Linked DNA regions of Homo sapiens. The protein of the gene in region 4 purifies or fractionates together with the protein of the main gene of each other region. This does not show direct contact. Each region holds a gene or a part of one and is shown on either strand. Other genes may lie near its edges.

Region 1 (4,091 bases), about 130 Mb from region 4:
ATCTAGACTCACTGCAACTTCCGCCTCCCGGGTTCAAGCAATTCTCCTGTCTCAGCCTCCTGAGTAGCTGGGACTACAGGCGTCTGCCACCATGCTCGGCTAATTTTTGTATTTTTAGTAGAGACGAGGTTTCACCTTGTTGGTCAGGCTGGTCTCGAACTCCTGACCTCAGGTGATCCACCCGCCTCTGCCTCCCGAAGTGCTGGGATTACAGGCGTGAGCCACCGCGCCCGGCCCTGAATAGGTTTTCAATGGGAGAGAGGTGGAGGAAACAGAGTGGAAATTACGATGAGTGCTAAAGGACAGATCACCCCAAGCTGTATTCACAGCCCAGGCCTGAAGGAAGCCTGGGTTCCCAGTCCATCCTGGTCTCTCCTCCCTCCTGTCATATCCAAAGCTCAAGGCCCTCACCCCAAACGGTTAAGTCACCCCAGGCCTTTAAGACTTTTCCTGCCTGCCCACTCTCCGTCCGACCCCCAGTTCTGTCCCTGCACTCCTTCAACCTCTGCACTTCATCACTCCACCGCCCTCCCGACCCCCTCCACCGAGCAGAAGGACGTGAACTAACTCACCTCCCAGTCGGTGCCTCTGAGATCTCCGAGACTGGGGGGGCGGGGGGCGGGCGAGGGGAGATGGCTTGCTGTTTAGGGATGAGGGGACCCCATCCTTTGCCAGGGGGTTCCAGCCCCAGCCTGGCACCCTTTCCTGGCCCCCACAACACGCAGAGCCCAGCTCTCCCCCCATCGCTGCTGCGGGCTTTGTCTTCTCTGCCGAGAACCTCTCCCCGCGGCCGGGCTCCGGGATCGACTCTGGGAGAGCGGGAGGGGGAAGCGGAGAGTGAGCGCGGCAGGGAGCGGGGAGAGGGGAGCGAGAGAGAAAGCCGCAGTGAGCGAGCGGGGACGGCTCCCGGCTCCCCGCCCCCGGCCCCGGCCCCCCCTCCTCATTTCCATAAAAAAGCGGGCCCCCAGGACCGGCCGGCGCGGGGCAGGAGCGGGTCCTGGGAGGGGGCGCGCGGCGTTAGCCAGCTTCATACCCGCTCTGTTTCCGCATACTACCCCTTCTCCCCGCACCCTCCCCTTAAAAAATTAGGGACCTCGACTTCCATCCCACTCCTAGCTTGCCCCGGAGCTGCGAGGAAAGACCGAAGGCCACATCCCTATCCTCCTCGGGTCAAGGAATTTGTCCCCGCGCCCCCAAGGGCGGGAAACTACAACTCCCGGCATGCCCCGGGCGCCCCCGGCGCGCCCCCCTCCCGTCAGTTTCATGCTGCTCCATCCAGTTCATTTAAAACAAAAGAGTTTGAGCGCTGGAAGGGGCTGGGCTCTATTGGGGGCCACTGAGCGCCGCTCCCGGACTGGGGCTCGGTGCGGGAGCCTAACGGGGGCGCCTGGACAGCGGGGGCTAGAGACTCCCAGGTCCGAGGCGGGAGGGGTGGGGGCAGAGATCCTGCAGCCCCCCGCCCCCCGTCACCCCCGGAGAGGAGAGGAGATCTGCTTTCTTGGTTTTGCTTCTCTTTCCCCCCACCCCCACCCCGGGGGCTGGGGCGAGGGGAGTCGGGTTACAGGGTGTTTGGGGAGGGGGGCTTAGGGGGAGGGTCTATCTTTCTATCTCGCTTTCTTCCCCCCTCCCCAGTTCTTTGTTCCCCCCTCCCCACACACCCCCTCCTCTCCTCTCCCCTCCCCTCCTCTCTCCTCTTTTCCCTTCCACCACCTCTCTCTCTCTCTCTCCCTCTCTCTCTCCCCCAGCTTTTGTTTCGCCATGCCTAGTCTAGTGGTATCTGGAATAATGGAAAGAAATGGGGGCTTTGGAGAACTAGGATGTTTCGGGGGAAGCGCTAAGGACCGAGGGCTGCTGGAAGACGAGCGCGCCCTTCAGCTGGCTCTCGATCAACTCTGCCTCCTGGGTTTGGGGGAGCCCCCCGCCCCCACGGCGGGCGAGGACGGGGGAGGTGGGGGGGGCGGCGCCCCCGCGCAGCCGGCCGCCCCCCCGCAGCCGGCCCCGCCGCCGCCGCCCGCGGCGCCCCCGGCCGCCCCGACGGCGGCCCCCGCAGCGCAGACGCCCCAGCCCCCCACCGCCCCCAAAGGGGCGAGCGACGCCAAGCTCTGCGCTCTCTACAAAGAGGCCGAGCTGCGCCTGAAGGGCAGCAGCAACACCACGGAGTGTGTTCCCGTGCCCACCTCCGAGCACGTGGCCGAGATCGTGGGCAGGCAAGGTAAGCGGGGCGCCGGGACCACTGAGAGGGACTGTAGTGGGGGCACCCTCGTCCCTAGCGCGGAAAGTTCATTTCTTCCCTTCTTGCCCGCCTCCGGCTCTGTCCCTTCCCCACAAAGGGGGACCCGCCCCCTACCCTGATTTCAAAGTGCCACAAAGTTCCCCGTTACCCCTAGTCGGGACGGTTCTCCAGATCCTTCCTCCCCCAGGACTCTGCCTTTAGACAAAGAAATATCCTCGCACTGGAAGAGGGAAAGGGGAGGGGATCGGTCTCCCAATCCAGGGAGGCTGTCCTGAGGGGGTGTCCACTCCTAACCAGAAAAACTGACGGAATGTGCAAAGAGTTACTCAGAAGCCTGTACTCTGGTATCTGCTCCTAGGCTGGGGAGGGGGCATCCCTGGGGCCCCCAGCCGCCTGGAGTTACAGACTTTGGGGGAGACCTGGCCCTCGAAGCCAGACTGAGTATCTGTCTCTTTGTTGGGCTGAGTGTAGGAATGGAAGGGGGTGTGGCCCAGGGGAGGGTCCCAGCCTGGGGAAGAGGCGGTGAGGGGGGCTGCTGAGAGGAGGGGGTCCTGTGGTCACCCACACCCCAAAGTTGGATTGTCTCTGGGGTTTTGGAAGGGGTGTCTCCAAGGAAGTGCTACGTCCTGGCTTGGACCTCTCCTCTTCCCTCTCTGGCTTTTGTTCTGGGCTGGCCACGGCCTTGGGCCAGAGGCCTAGAGAGGGGTCTCTGGTAGTGAAAGAGTAGGACAGGGTAGGAGGGGGAATGCTGGGGGGTAAGAAACCTTCACCTGGAAATTTGGTGGAGGGCGTGTGTCTGGGTGTGTTGGGAGGGGGTGCAGAATTAATCCAGCGTAGTATGTCTGGTACCACACCCTCTGCTGCTCCAGCATCCCTGGGTGGGTGAGTGGGGGTGTTGGTGAAGGTCCAAATTGAGCAGACGGGATCTTGGGGACCCTTCCCTCTCCTGGCTTCTCAAAGGAGAGTGTGGGGGGCAGGATTTGGAAATTGCAAAGAGGCTGGGCTGGGGAGGTGTGGGGTGGGGGAGGAGCTGTCCCACAGTGGGGAACAATAGAGGAGCTGCATTCCGGCTGGGAGTGCGGGAGGAGGCCAGCTTCTGGCAGAGGAAAAGGGGAGGCGGGCCAGGGGGGCCCCTACTCCACATCCCACCTTATCCACTGGGAGTGCTGGGGGTTAGGGGGATTTCACGGAGAGATCCAGAATGGAGGAGGGGAAGATGCCACTCCCCTGCACAGCCCTCATCCCCCTGGGGCACTCCATCTCTTGAGATTTCTGATTTAGAAAGTTGGATTTCCTCTTGTCAGAAACTGGGGATCCAAAGCCCTGGAATTGGGTGGGGACGGACATTGCTATCTTTTCTTGGGTGTGGGGGTGGTCTTGGGAGGCCCCGGAATTTAATGGAGTCATTCTTTCCTCTTCTGCCTCCGCATCAGATGGGCTTGTCCCTCATAAAAGTAAGGGGATTTTTATTCACAAAAGATAAGCCTGCCCCTCAGTCAAGTATATGGAAGTCCTCCCTCTTGTCTAACCTCCCTCCTCCTGCTGCAGTGTTAGTGCTCCTCTGTTTGACCTCTAGGAAGGTGAAGCCCAGTGGGTCTTCCCTTCAAGAGATGCTTCTTTGGGGTTGCAGAACCCAGGAAGAGACCCACCACCAGCTTTGCACCTCCAGGCCTCTAGCGTTTCTTCTTACTCGATGCCTTGGCCTGTCCTCCTCACCCCAACCCCAACCGCTAAAGATACCTAGCTCTCATTTAAGTTTTTGGACCCAAAACTTACGGCCAGAACCCAGGTGCCCATCAAACGATATGTGAGTAGAAATGGTAGGAGAGGGGAGTTCACTGTTTTGTGACCCTCCATA
Region 2 (3,583 bases), on a different chromosome or scaffold from region 4:
TTGTTATTGTTAACTCACATGTGTTGTGTAAAGATACCATTGAAAAAGTGGCTATCTAGTTTGATTTTTAGTTATATTTTCTGTGGAGTCAGTCTTGAAGACCTATGCTTTTTATAAAATGTTGATTATTCTTTTGGTTATATGAACAGAAAAGGACTTACAGAATTTCGTTGTTGAAAGCAAATTTTGAGCTGCCATATGCATTACAGGCAACCTTTGATTTTTTTCTTTTCTACAACAATGGAAAAACAGGTTTAGCCTGGATAATTGAAATCAAAGGACAATCCCAAATCTTGTCCATTTAATCTTCTCTCACATCCAAATATTTTGACTAGGACTAGCAGCAAGAATAATCTTGATTTATGTGATTTTTTTTTTTCTCTAGACAGGCAAGAAAGTAAGAGGAACTAGAACCACTTCCCTCCAGCCTCCTTCATTTGTTTAATCACCCTTTAAATAATGGTTTGTTAGTGGCTTGCAATCAGACCTTCTCATTCATCCTCATTCATTTGTTTTAGGACAACAAATTTTAAAAGGAAAGCTCTAAGAAGATGTTATTTTCTGTTTACTAAATTAGCAAATGAAACCATTGTTAAAAGAAGAAAATAGTGATTGTTAGTGCTCTGAAAAATCAAACCAAACCAAACAAACAATAAATAAGTGATCTTGAGGTTTTGTTCACATGGCACTCTTGATTAGAAATACCACATTTTCCCTACTGGGAATTTTTAGAACATTAGAAAATTTTTTCCCACACATTGATTATAATGTGTGAATATTTTTTTCACACAATATTATTTAGGGTATGTAATCAGTCCCCTAAAGGGATTCCTGTAGGGGCACTAGGTGAAGAGTGCAATTTATTTGAAATAGAGGCAGAATTTTTTCAATGCTGAGTATATTACGGTTTAATTTCCACCTTTCCAAAGTTCCATTTATAATTTGGTCAACATTTTGGTTTTATTTTTCCTATGAGAATTATTTATGGTGTATCTAGTGTCCCATAACTTCCTTCTGGGACATTGGCTGAGTATGTAAAGGGAAGAGTGCCACCTACTGAGTCACCAATAGTCACCTACCTCCTTAGCACCTGGGTTTTCCTATGGAGCAAGAACAAGCCTGCCCCATTTGGGCAGCAATCACTAAAGAGCATAAAGTTGATATGAGAACATTTAATCTCAAAATGAAATCTATCGTACCTCCAAGATATTCTTTTCTAGAAATAGGAATATATGTAAATTAAGGGACTAGAGGTTTACAGAGTTTTTTGTATGGGCTAAATAATATAGATGAATTAAGATGTGGTGTTAGGAAAATTATTTGCCTATTTTAAGTATATAATGTCCTGCTTTTTCTTGGGAGGAGATCTTTTGGCATGGCTGTCCATTGAAAGTATTTTCATCTCATTACTATATAAGGCTCTTGATACTACGTACAGTTTTTATAGCTACCCAATCCAAATTATCATTGGTTTTCTTCAAAAAGAAGAATCTAAACATATTAAAAAATTAGCATTATATGAAAAATTTGCAAATGGGCTTATTGCTCCTGTTACCAGCATTAAAGTATTACTAGAAAGAAGGTAGACACAACAGAGTAGGAAAAGCTGCTGGTGATTTGAAACACAGTTTAGTTGTCTCATAAATTTCAGATTAAGTGTCATATATGGGTGATAAAAGTGGCATAGGCTAGATTTTATATACTCATGATTCACTTAGTTTGTCTTTTTCAATTAAAGCTAAGTCTCTTTTTCATTCCACTGAATTTACATTTCTTTTTCAATCACATTCTGAACACATTACAATAGATGCTGCCTAAAACTGAATATAGTGTAAATCTCAGACTAATGTGTTATTCACTGTGGCTTCTTTGAAAATATGTAGTAAAAAGATTTTGATTATTGTAAGGTGCTATTTATCAAGAGTCATCTTTTAGGGTTGAAAGATGTTCAGCCCTACCTTTAAACAGCCCAGCTTTCTATCAAAATACATCATTTAGCTTCCCAAAGTCAATTTTGGAAATTTTGTCCAATGATTGGATTGTAAGACTCTGGTATTTTTTACCCATTGTACCATGAGAGCTCTTGTGCCAGTTCATGTCACCTTTTCCATGTTTGAAAAGTCCACAGTTCATCTGTAACCTGTAAAAGTGCTAAGTAATCAGGGAAAGACATCAGTTAGAACAATCAATAACTTTTCAATTAGCCATTTTCCAACTTTGGGCATTTGGCTCTGTTGATTTGCATGTGCCCAGTTTAATTGATTTTTATGTTTATCAGTACCTGTTTGGTCAGAGCCATACCCTGCTTTAACAGAGAAGAGCATGTCTTTTTTTTTTTTTTTTCCTGATGGTAGCTTACATTCTAGGGTAGGATCCCTATCATATTAAGTTTGGTGACAGCACATCTCAATGAAAGCAGAGAGAAATCTGGCCCAATTCACAATGTAGAGAGAGATGTGGAATTAAGTTAGAAAGGCCATGGGGGTGCTGTGTGATTGGTTTTACCTTTATTTTATTGATCTGCGGCTAAGCATATGGTGGTAGATTCAGCCCAATTCTTGCGCCCTCCCCCTCCCCCATACAATTCAGGCCATCACAGAGGCTGAGTGTGTGTATATGCATGGGCCAGGAGGTATTGGGTGGTTGGAGGACTAGGCAGGAAGAGGAGGTGTTACCTTTGTGACTTGTTTTTAACCTCCAGTATGCAAGCCCTATTCTAGGCTGTTTGATAGTCGGGGGTGGTGAGGACAAGTGGCCAAACTGCTTTTCAAGAGTGGGAATCTGTGCTAGATACTACATCCAGAAGCTGAGAGTTACTTTATCATTTGCAAAAAAATTTAAACTGTTCTGACCTGGTGTAGTTCCACCTTTTCACTATGTGATCTGTGTAGAAGTTGGCAGAAAGCAGTTAGTGTGTGTGTGTTAGATACTTGTCCCAACCACTTGCGACTCCAGGGAAAGGTGGGGTGGCTGTTTTTTAGGAGGTCTATATGTTAAAAGGGGGGAAAAAGGAAGATTGGAGTACTATTCAGTGATTTGGTGTGTTTGCCTCTTAGGGGTCTCCATGGCAATTGAGAGATTTCTAACTTAAACTGCTCAAGATTGCTGAGCCAGTATACGTCAACTTTTAATTTTGTTTTCAGACCTTAACATTTATCGACAGAGCAGTTGTAAATCTGATCTTTTCAGAGGCCTTCTCCCCCAGATCCTTACAGCTGTACCGTGAGATAAGGTTTACTCTTGACAGTGTTAAGGTGTATTAGGAGCTAAAATCCCATCACGTTTACTTTCACCAGGATAACTTTTTCCTGCTGATGACTTGGGCTGGGGTGGAGGCTGATGGAGATAGGGGTAATTCTGGGGTTAAATGCAAGCAGTGTAGACTCTGCAGTCTATTTGGCTGCCGGCCCGGAGGCAGGAGATGGGGGTGGGTGGGGGTAGTTAGACCTGGTAGTTAAACCCTTTCCCGCGGGCGCAGAGTGGGCCTCCCACGCTTCTCTCCCGTGGCCAGTATGCGTGAGAGTGTGAGTTGAGCCCCTGCCTCCGAGGAAGAATTCTAAAAACCGGGCTAAGGGTCGAGCGA
Region 3 (4,239 bases), on a different chromosome or scaffold from region 4:
CTGATCAGGGGCGGGAAGACCTGGAGGTCGGTAAAACGGAGCGGTGCGGGATGATGTCTGGGAACACCGGCAAGGTGTCATAAAATGAACGCCAAGGCGGCCACAAGAGGACGGCCGGGAACCGAACCCAGCGCCCAGCACGGGGCCCTTGTGGCCGACGTGACGTGGCTCCGTCAGGTGGAAACCGTGCGATCCTCTCCCGATCCAACTCACGAGAGATAAAGATGTCTAAATAACCACGACCGCCGCCGCACACCCTGCAGGGCCCCGGGGGCGGAGGGGAGGGGAGCGCCTCCTCGGCAGAAGCGGCGGCCCAGGCTTGTTTGGAGGTTCGCAATTCACCATGATAAATGTAAAGACCAATTAAGGTTTGATCCGTGCACACAGGAGGCAGACGGCGGCTGATAGTGGAAACAATTAACGAGCATGTCCCCTAATTCCTGCCGCGGCTGCTGAGCACACCGCGGCTCCCCAGGCGCCCGCCGCTGCCGCCCCCGAGTCCCAGAGCCCCCAGTCCGGCCCTGGAGTGGGGCGTCCTCCTCCAGCGAAAAGGTGCGAGGAGCGGGGCCCCGGGTGGCCGGGGAGGGGGCGCGCCGGGCCGGGAGGCGCGGAGCCAGCCGCCTACGGAGCCCAACTGTTTGCATCGGGGACCGGCGGGCGGGGCGCGCCCGAGTGGTCTCGCCGGGAAAGGGCGGCGGGCGCTGGAGAAGGCGCCTGGCGCGAAGCTGGGCGGCGCCCCGAGGGCGGAGGACAGGTGGCCGCGCGACCGCAGCCAGGTAGCGAACGGCTCGGGGGCTGCGCAGCGCGGTCCCAAAGCTCAGCCCGGCCCCGGGCCCAGCTCGCTGCCGCCTGCCACGGGAGCGGCCTTGCGCGGAGGGAGGGGGCGCGAGACCGCACCCCCGGGCCCGGCGCGCCTCGGCCTCTGGGCTCCCGCTCCCCTTCCCCTTCCGGCTCAGCCCGCTGCCCCAGACGTGACCCCCGCGGAAGGTGTTGGCGATGCGCGCTGCCCGGGAGCGTGTGATTAATGGCCCCGAGGTCGTGGGCGGCGCATGCACCAGCCCCTTCTTGGCCTGGTCAGGGTGTGAGGGTATCCGGGAGCACAGCGAGGTCATGGCAGCGGGGGCCTCCGGGAGCGCGGCGGCGGAGGAGGAGGAGGAAGAGGAGAAGTAGGTGACGCGGGCCGAAGAGGCTTGTCCCCTCTGGCCCCAGGGCTGGCGCCGCGGCGGGTCCCCCGCCCCAAGCAAAGTTTGGGGCTACGGGCGCTGCGCTCAGGTCCCTCCCCGCGCAGTTCCCTCGGCGGGGTCTGTGCCGCCGCCGCTGCCAGGGCAGGACAAAGGCTCATTAACACGTGATGGGACCGCGCTTCATAAATGGGACTGGAGCGAGAGGGAGCCAGAGACAGCGCGAGCGGAGGGAGCGGCAGGGACTGCGCGAGCGGGACGAGGCGACGGGCGCCCGGGCTGGCGGAGACGGGCGGCCCCACGCCGGGCCAGGCGGGGCTCGCGGGAGGACCCAGTGAAGAGCCTGGGAAGGGGCGAGGCTCGCCGGCGGTCGGAGCAGCGGGGCGCCAGTCCCGGTCGCTGTCGCGGGCGGGCGCTGGAGACCGGGACGCCGGCGCTCGGACGGACTGACTTGCTGACCGCCCGCCGGAGGCACACCCCACTCCACCCCACCCCGCCTCGCCAGCAGCCCGGCGCCGGCGCCGCCTCCCGCACGCTACTCCCTCTGCCACCCCTTCCTTCTCCACTTCTTTTCCGCCTCCGCCTCTTCTTGTCTCCCGCGGCGCCAGCGCCTTCCCTTGGCCCGGGCGGGGGCCTCGGCTCCCTGCAGAGCTCTCCGTAGTCAGTGGGGGATATTTCGTTCTAGCGGACAACCAGCCCCTGAGCTGGGCGAGAGGTGCCAAGGGAGCTTCTGTCCCGAGGACCAGGGGATGCGAAGGGTAAGACCTGGCAGAGTTGCGTTTGGAAATACTTTTTCCGCCTCCCGCCCCCTCGGGTACGACCAGTGTGGTCCCCAAGTGTCCTTCGTGGAGTTCTTATTCCGTGTGAGCGAATCGTGCGTCGGTGTTTACTTAGCTGTATGGCCCCAGCCTGTTAACTGTGATCTGTTCTACTTCTGGAGATTTCTACCATTTACTATTTATTGAATGTGTGTGCACCTGGCTCTGTATGCACTGATGTCTGTTTGTAGAAAATGGGTAATTGTGCATGTTTGAAAAACGGGCGCTTGAGTTGGTGCTGAATGCCTATAAACCATGTTAGCAGCTAAGTCTTCCCAGGGAAATACATCGATCTCTGCTGCAAGCCTAGAAACTGACTAATGTAAAATAGTAAATGTCATATAAAGAGATGTATGTCAAATAATAAACTTTTGATAAAAAGCTACAGGAACCACTTCTCTTTGAGGAAAAACAAATGTCCATGTAACTAATACCTAAAATTGAATGTTGATGGAACCGTTTAACTCAGAACTAGCTGTTAGATGACTAAAGTTAATGTTGCATTTTTAAAAGACATTTCTTGTTAAGGCTTACAAATCATAAACGGATCACCTCTCAAATAAAAATATGTTTGCTGTAATAGACATGAGAAACTGTCATTTGGTCATTTGGAAGTTTAAAAGCAACATGCATGTTTCTGATTTTAATAGATTGTCTCTCAGATATTTAAAATTGAACAGATAAAAAAACAAAAGAAATGTTTAGTAACGTATTAATCATTTTGCCTCCCATCTTTTTTTATTTTCCTCCAAATAAGTGCTATTCTTGCCTTTGTTGTTGATTTCCTGATATAGTAAGCCTCCTCGGGCATGTAATCCAATAAGAGATTAGAACAGATTTACTGGTTTTAAAGGTGTTGAAAGATATCTCTGTGGGTCCCATAACTTCTCCTCATTTTTATTACCAAGTTAATATCTTTTGAACAATGGGGGAAATGCAATTTCTTAGAGGAAGCTTAGCGGACACTGAGTATTAGTGGGGTCACCACTGACATCAATCTATTTTGCAGAATATTGAGAAGCTCAGAGCAACCAACCTTTAAGGTTCCCATAGGACTTTATGTGATTTAAAGTGTTGCTTTTCTAATCCTACCCTACTGACAGTTTGCAAGGGAAGATACACTAATTGATTTTTCTCTGTCCTTTTTTTCCCTGGTACTCCTCCCCCTCCCCCGCTCTCTAACTCAGTTAAGAGCAATTTTATAAAAATAAAAGGCCATTTATAGTTTCTTAAGTGAGACAAATTACTTTCAGATTATATCCATACATGAGCAGAAGACATGCACCTCCAGAATTTTAAACATTGCATACTACAGGCACTTATTTGTAGGCACAATGGCAGTTACCATAGTGGGGCAAGAGACTTGATGTGGGACATGGTTTTAAAAAACTAATCCATTTTAGCTTATCAGGAGAACTTACTGTAAACCGACTCTTTTTGTTTCAAAGATGTCTCCCACTCCAGGCGAGGAGCGCTCTTGGCTGAGGTATGTATCAAGTGTCTGATGGGGAGAGGTCTCATTGTGTTTCTCAGTGTCCATGGGGGTACAATGATGCCACAAGGTGGAAATACCCAATTCTGGCCTTTCACAAATAAAATTACTGTGCTTGCATACTCGTTGTTAGGAAAGCAAATTAGATATTCATGCCCCTGAATTTTAATAACATTAATATATGTATGTAAAAAGAATGTTATGACTAGAACCTTAAATAAGCCATAAGTGATTATTATTTAGTGTGTAAAGTTTTAAATTCTGATGAACACCAGGTCTCACATTGAAGTAGTGCTTGGCTTTGTTTGTTATCCACTGTTTTCTGTCTTTTTCTGTTACCCATTTCCCAGTGGACCATGTTCCTCTCTGTCTTGCCTGTGAGATTGCTCTTCTCTAATAAGCCTAGCTGCAGGATCAGTGTGTTCTTTTTGGCATTTCAAAATGGTAAAATAGTGAAATTGTTAAATGTTACCAAGATGAAACTGCTGGGAATGAAATTCTCAAAAAGAACCACTGTATTTGTGGCATATTTCAGCCTCTTCCAAAAGAAAACTCTTTGATTCGGTTTACCTATTTTCCCAAGAAGGAAGCAGCCCCATTGATTGTGTTGATAAGTGTTTAGTATGCAGTGTCAGCTTATTAATTACTAAGGCAAAGCCTGAGAAACTGTTTCAAAACAGTCGTATAACACTGTTCTTTGCTTTGACTCAAAATTAACATTAACCACGGGGAAATTTAGACAGGCTTC
Region 4 (3,583 bases):
CTCACCAGCTGGGTGACCTGGGGCAGGCTATTTAACCTCTCTGAGCCCTTGAGGGTTGCTAAGAGGATTAAATGAGATAGATCCATGAAAAGTGCTTACATAGGGCCCAGCACACTGCAAGTGCTCAATGAATGCCCCCACCTGCATCCAATTGCTCAGGCCCCATCATGCCTCCCCCCATCCAGAATCTTCCTAGAATTCCTGAGCTAGCTGCCCACTTCCCACCCTGACTGCCATTGGGTGGGCCCAGCATTGTAGAGTTTGTGCAGGACCCAGGCTTCTCTGCCCTTCGGAGGACTACAGAGCCCACACCTCTCCAGCCAGGGAGGGCTGTGGGCTTTGGGGACTCGGACAGGTGAGGTCTTTGTCCCAGCGGCTCTGCCCAGTCCTGTTTCTAGAGGCAGGGAGCCCTGGGAGAGGGGCTGTAAGGGCAACCCTCTATCCCTGGCAGAGCTCCCACACCTCAAGTGAAAGGCAAGTGGTGAATGAGGCAAGGCTAGAGTCTTCAGTCCCATGGCATCCTGAGCCTGCTGCCCGGGTGGGCACAGTGCCTACAGCAGTCTGCCAGCGGGTGGATGGCCTCTCTCTGGACCTCCAACACAGGGGAAGACGCAAGAGGCTGGTGATGGTGACATCAGCTCAGGCCTTGTCCTGGCAGCCTCTCGAGGGTCCCTGACGCTGCCAACTTTTGAGCAAGAAGAATCAGGGCTGCCCTGGCAGTTCTGGCACCGAGCTTGCAGGCAGGAAGAAGTTCCCAAGGTCACCCTCCATCAGCCACCTCCACCCTACCCCTCGAGCCCTGAATCAAGGAGTGAGGCCTTGGAGAGGGCTGTCCTCTGAGCAGGGTACTGGGGTGGCTTTCCCTCGCAGAACTGGGGCCCAGAGTTCAGGAGCCAAGCAGAGGGCTGGACCCATCTGCCCCACCTCCACCTTCCCTCTGCTGCCCCCACAGCCTGGCTGCGGCAGACACATGGCTCCCGTGGCCTTGAGAAGGTCACAGCCTCTGAGGTGGCTCAGGCATCTGATCCTCACCCACTGCCCCCAAACCCCAGCCTTGCCAGCAGATCCACCGTCTCAGGGGAGTCTGAGGAACAGGTACTGTAGTTTCAAGAAATACTGCAATTCCCCCAGAGATACAACAACACACTTGAGGCTCACACAACACAGTCACCAGCTTCAACTCATGGGAGCTGTACTGCAAAGACAGAAACTACATCCTCCCATTCCACAGATGGAAAGGGAGGCTCAAAGAGGCCGGGCGGCTTGCCTGAGCTCACCCAGCTAGTGGGGTGGGGCCAGAAGCGGAACACAAGGTTCCTGACTTCCTGAACCAATGACAGCCCCCGGCTCTCCAGCTCTCATAGCAACCTAGTTCCCGGGTGGCTTGGTGCCTTGATCCTCTTGCCTGCCCCTGGGATGGAAGAGGCTGGAATCCTCTCCTTTGCACACTGGGAGAAAATGAGGCCCAGGGAAACAGGCGAGGGGGCCATCCTTACACAGCAGTGGCAGGGCAGAGAACTACGCCAGGTGGTTCCTCATTCCAGGCTAGTGGGCTCAGCCTGCCCCTCCCGTGTATCCTGCATTGATTTTGGGGAAATGCAGACTCCTCGGCCTGCCATTCAAGGCCCTTAATAGACTGACCCCGATTTGTCCCTACCCCCACCTTCCATGAATCCAACCCAGTGTCCACATTGCCACCCCCAGCCCTTGCCCACGCCGTAGCTGGTCTCGCCTCCAGGAGCGCCTCCACTTCTCCTCTTGCTGTGCAACTGGTAATTCTACTACTAACATTATCACTTACTGAACACCTAATATGTGCCAGGCAAGGACTCCTCAAGGAGGAAACTTACCCAGCTCACCTGGTGATAGCCATGCCAACTACTTTGGAAATGCGAAGTTACGGAAAAAATTCTCACTACTCTCAAAACACTGAAGAAAAGGCTTATTATTTTTTTTTTCTGGCTGTAGAGAAGTATTGGATGTTTTTAGAAAAGATTTTTCTCCAGATTTGTGTTTGCTTTTCCTTCAGTGTGTCTCTCTGTGTTTCTCTGAGTGCAGCTTTATATTTTTCAAAGCAGTTCCCAGCCAGTATGTCTGGCCTCGCAAACAACATCCCCAGGGAGGCAGGCAAATAAAAGCTCGTCATCCCCGTTCTAGGGAGAAAGAAATGAGGCACAGAGAAGGCAGGTGATTTTTCCAAAGTCACACAGCAGAGACTGGATTTGGCATTCTGAGGACTCCCAATCTATGTCCTTTTAGACCCAGCAGAATGCCTAGGATAAGCTGGGCACTGCCCTCAGTGTTTGCTTGCATTCACCTTCTTATCCCTTGAAACATACTCATCAGGCAAGTGCTATGATTCCCACTTCCTAGATCAAGAAACAGACTCAGAGGGAGAGAGGAACTCACCAAAAGTTGTACGGCTGCTCAGTGGCAATGTCAGAATTCGAACTTGGGTCTGCTTCCTCCGAATGGGGGTCCGAGGGAGGGTGGCCTCGGTTGGCAGAGGTATTAACCTGTAGAGTGGGCAAGTCACTTTCTCTCTTTGAGCCTCACCTCCTCATCTGACACAAAGCACCGGGCTGTGGCAGGGACCACAGGACCCAGCTCATCTCTGTGCCCCAGTGCCTGTCACAGTCCCTGGGATCCACTACATGCTCATTAAATGCTTAGTGAGTAGGCACACGAGGCTGCTCCCATTGTGCTGGTGCAAAGCAGGAGTATCATGTTTTGCTTCCTTTCTTGCAGTAGGAAAGGCTGGAATCCCAGTGGGACCTTTCTGTTTTGGGGTGTCTCCCCACCAGCACTCCTCTGCCTCTTTTCCCTTCTTCCTCTCTGAGTCACCACCTGCCTGACAGTGCTGGTCTTTAGCCCTAAATATAGAGCACATTTTGAGGCATAAAATGTCCACAAATGTGAGCAACATAGCTGCAGCCCACTGCCCTTGGGTACCCTCCTCCTGGGCTGACCCCAGGGTGGCCGCCCCAAGAAGCCCTGAGACTGGCGACCCCTGCTTGGCCCTAGTGTGGATCCAGAGGCTGCACTCTGCAGGAAGTCATCAGCCTGGGGCCCCATGGGCCCACACTGCCACCAGAGCCCAACTTCCTTTCCTTATTGGCACAGGGCTGCCACCTCACACCTCTGACTTTCCTCATCCCCCAGCCAGGCTGAGCTGCCTCCCAGAGCTGGAGCTGGGCCCAGAGAGGGAAAATGACTTGTCCGGGCCACACAGCCAGCAAGAGGCAGGGCCAGGCTTGGACAGGGAATCAGCACTCTGGCAGGCTTGGTGTGAGTGCCGAGGGAGCATGGTGGAGCTGGGAGCCCCTCCCCATCTAGCATGTCTGCCCTGGAGGCCTCACCTAAGCCCACAGAAGCACCTCTCCACAGCGCCAGTCTCTCAGAGGCACAGGGTGCCAGGGCCAGCCTGGCAGAGGTCCTGGCATGCAAGGAGGTGAGCAGAGAGTGCTGAGGGCTCCCTTCCCTTCACACCAGCTGGCCCCCAGCCTTGCTGGGAGGACAAAGCAGAAACTGGGGCCTGGTAATGCCTCTAGCAAAAGTGGAAAGGAAAGGGAACCCCAGAGCC

Evidence for each region.
Region 1: the proteins of RAP1GAP (region 4) and MEX3A purify together in Homo sapiens (affinity purification with western blotting, with the first as the bait; one study listed by BioGRID). This does not show direct contact.
Region 2: the proteins of RAP1GAP (region 4) and SKAP2 purify together in Homo sapiens (affinity purification with mass spectrometry; one large-scale study listed by BioGRID and IntAct). This does not show direct contact.
Region 3: the proteins of RAP1GAP (region 4) and CNR1 purify together in Homo sapiens (affinity purification with western blotting, with the first as the bait; one study listed by BioGRID). This does not show direct contact.

Annotation. Positions count from the first base shown.
Region 1 is NC_000001.11:156,079,666-156,083,756, reverse strand, and holds the start of MEX3A (RNA-binding protein MEX3A), read left to right. Parts: upstream 1-1,291; 5' UTR 1,292-1,758; coding exon 1,759-2,212; intron 2,213-4,091. UniProt on the Homo sapiens protein: RNA binding protein, may be involved in post-transcriptional regulatory mechanisms.
Region 2 is NC_000007.14:26,858,029-26,861,611, reverse strand, and holds part of SKAP2 (src kinase-associated phosphoprotein 2), read left to right. Parts: intron 1-3,583. UniProt on the Homo sapiens protein: May be involved in B-cell and macrophage adhesion processes. In B-cells, may act by coupling the B-cell receptor (BCR) to integrin activation. May play a role in src signaling pathway.
Region 3 is NC_000006.12:88,163,503-88,167,741, reverse strand, and holds the start of CNR1 (cannabinoid receptor 1), read left to right. Parts: upstream 1-1,394; 5' UTR 1,395-1,939; exon of another isoform or gene 1,940-1,995; intron 1,996-3,447; exon of another isoform or gene 3,448-4,239. UniProt on the Homo sapiens protein: G-protein coupled receptor for endogenous cannabinoids (eCBs), including N-arachidonoylethanolamide (also called anandamide or AEA) and 2-arachidonoylglycerol (2-AG), as well as phytocannabinoids, such as delta(9)-tetrahydrocannabinol (THC).
Region 4 is NC_000001.11:21,662,802-21,666,384, forward strand, and holds part of RAP1GAP (rap1 GTPase-activating protein 1), read right to left. Parts: intron 2,517-3,583; exon of another isoform or gene 2,410-2,516; intron 1-2,409. UniProt on the Homo sapiens protein: GTPase activator for the nuclear Ras-related regulatory protein RAP-1A (KREV-1), converting it to the putatively inactive GDP-bound state.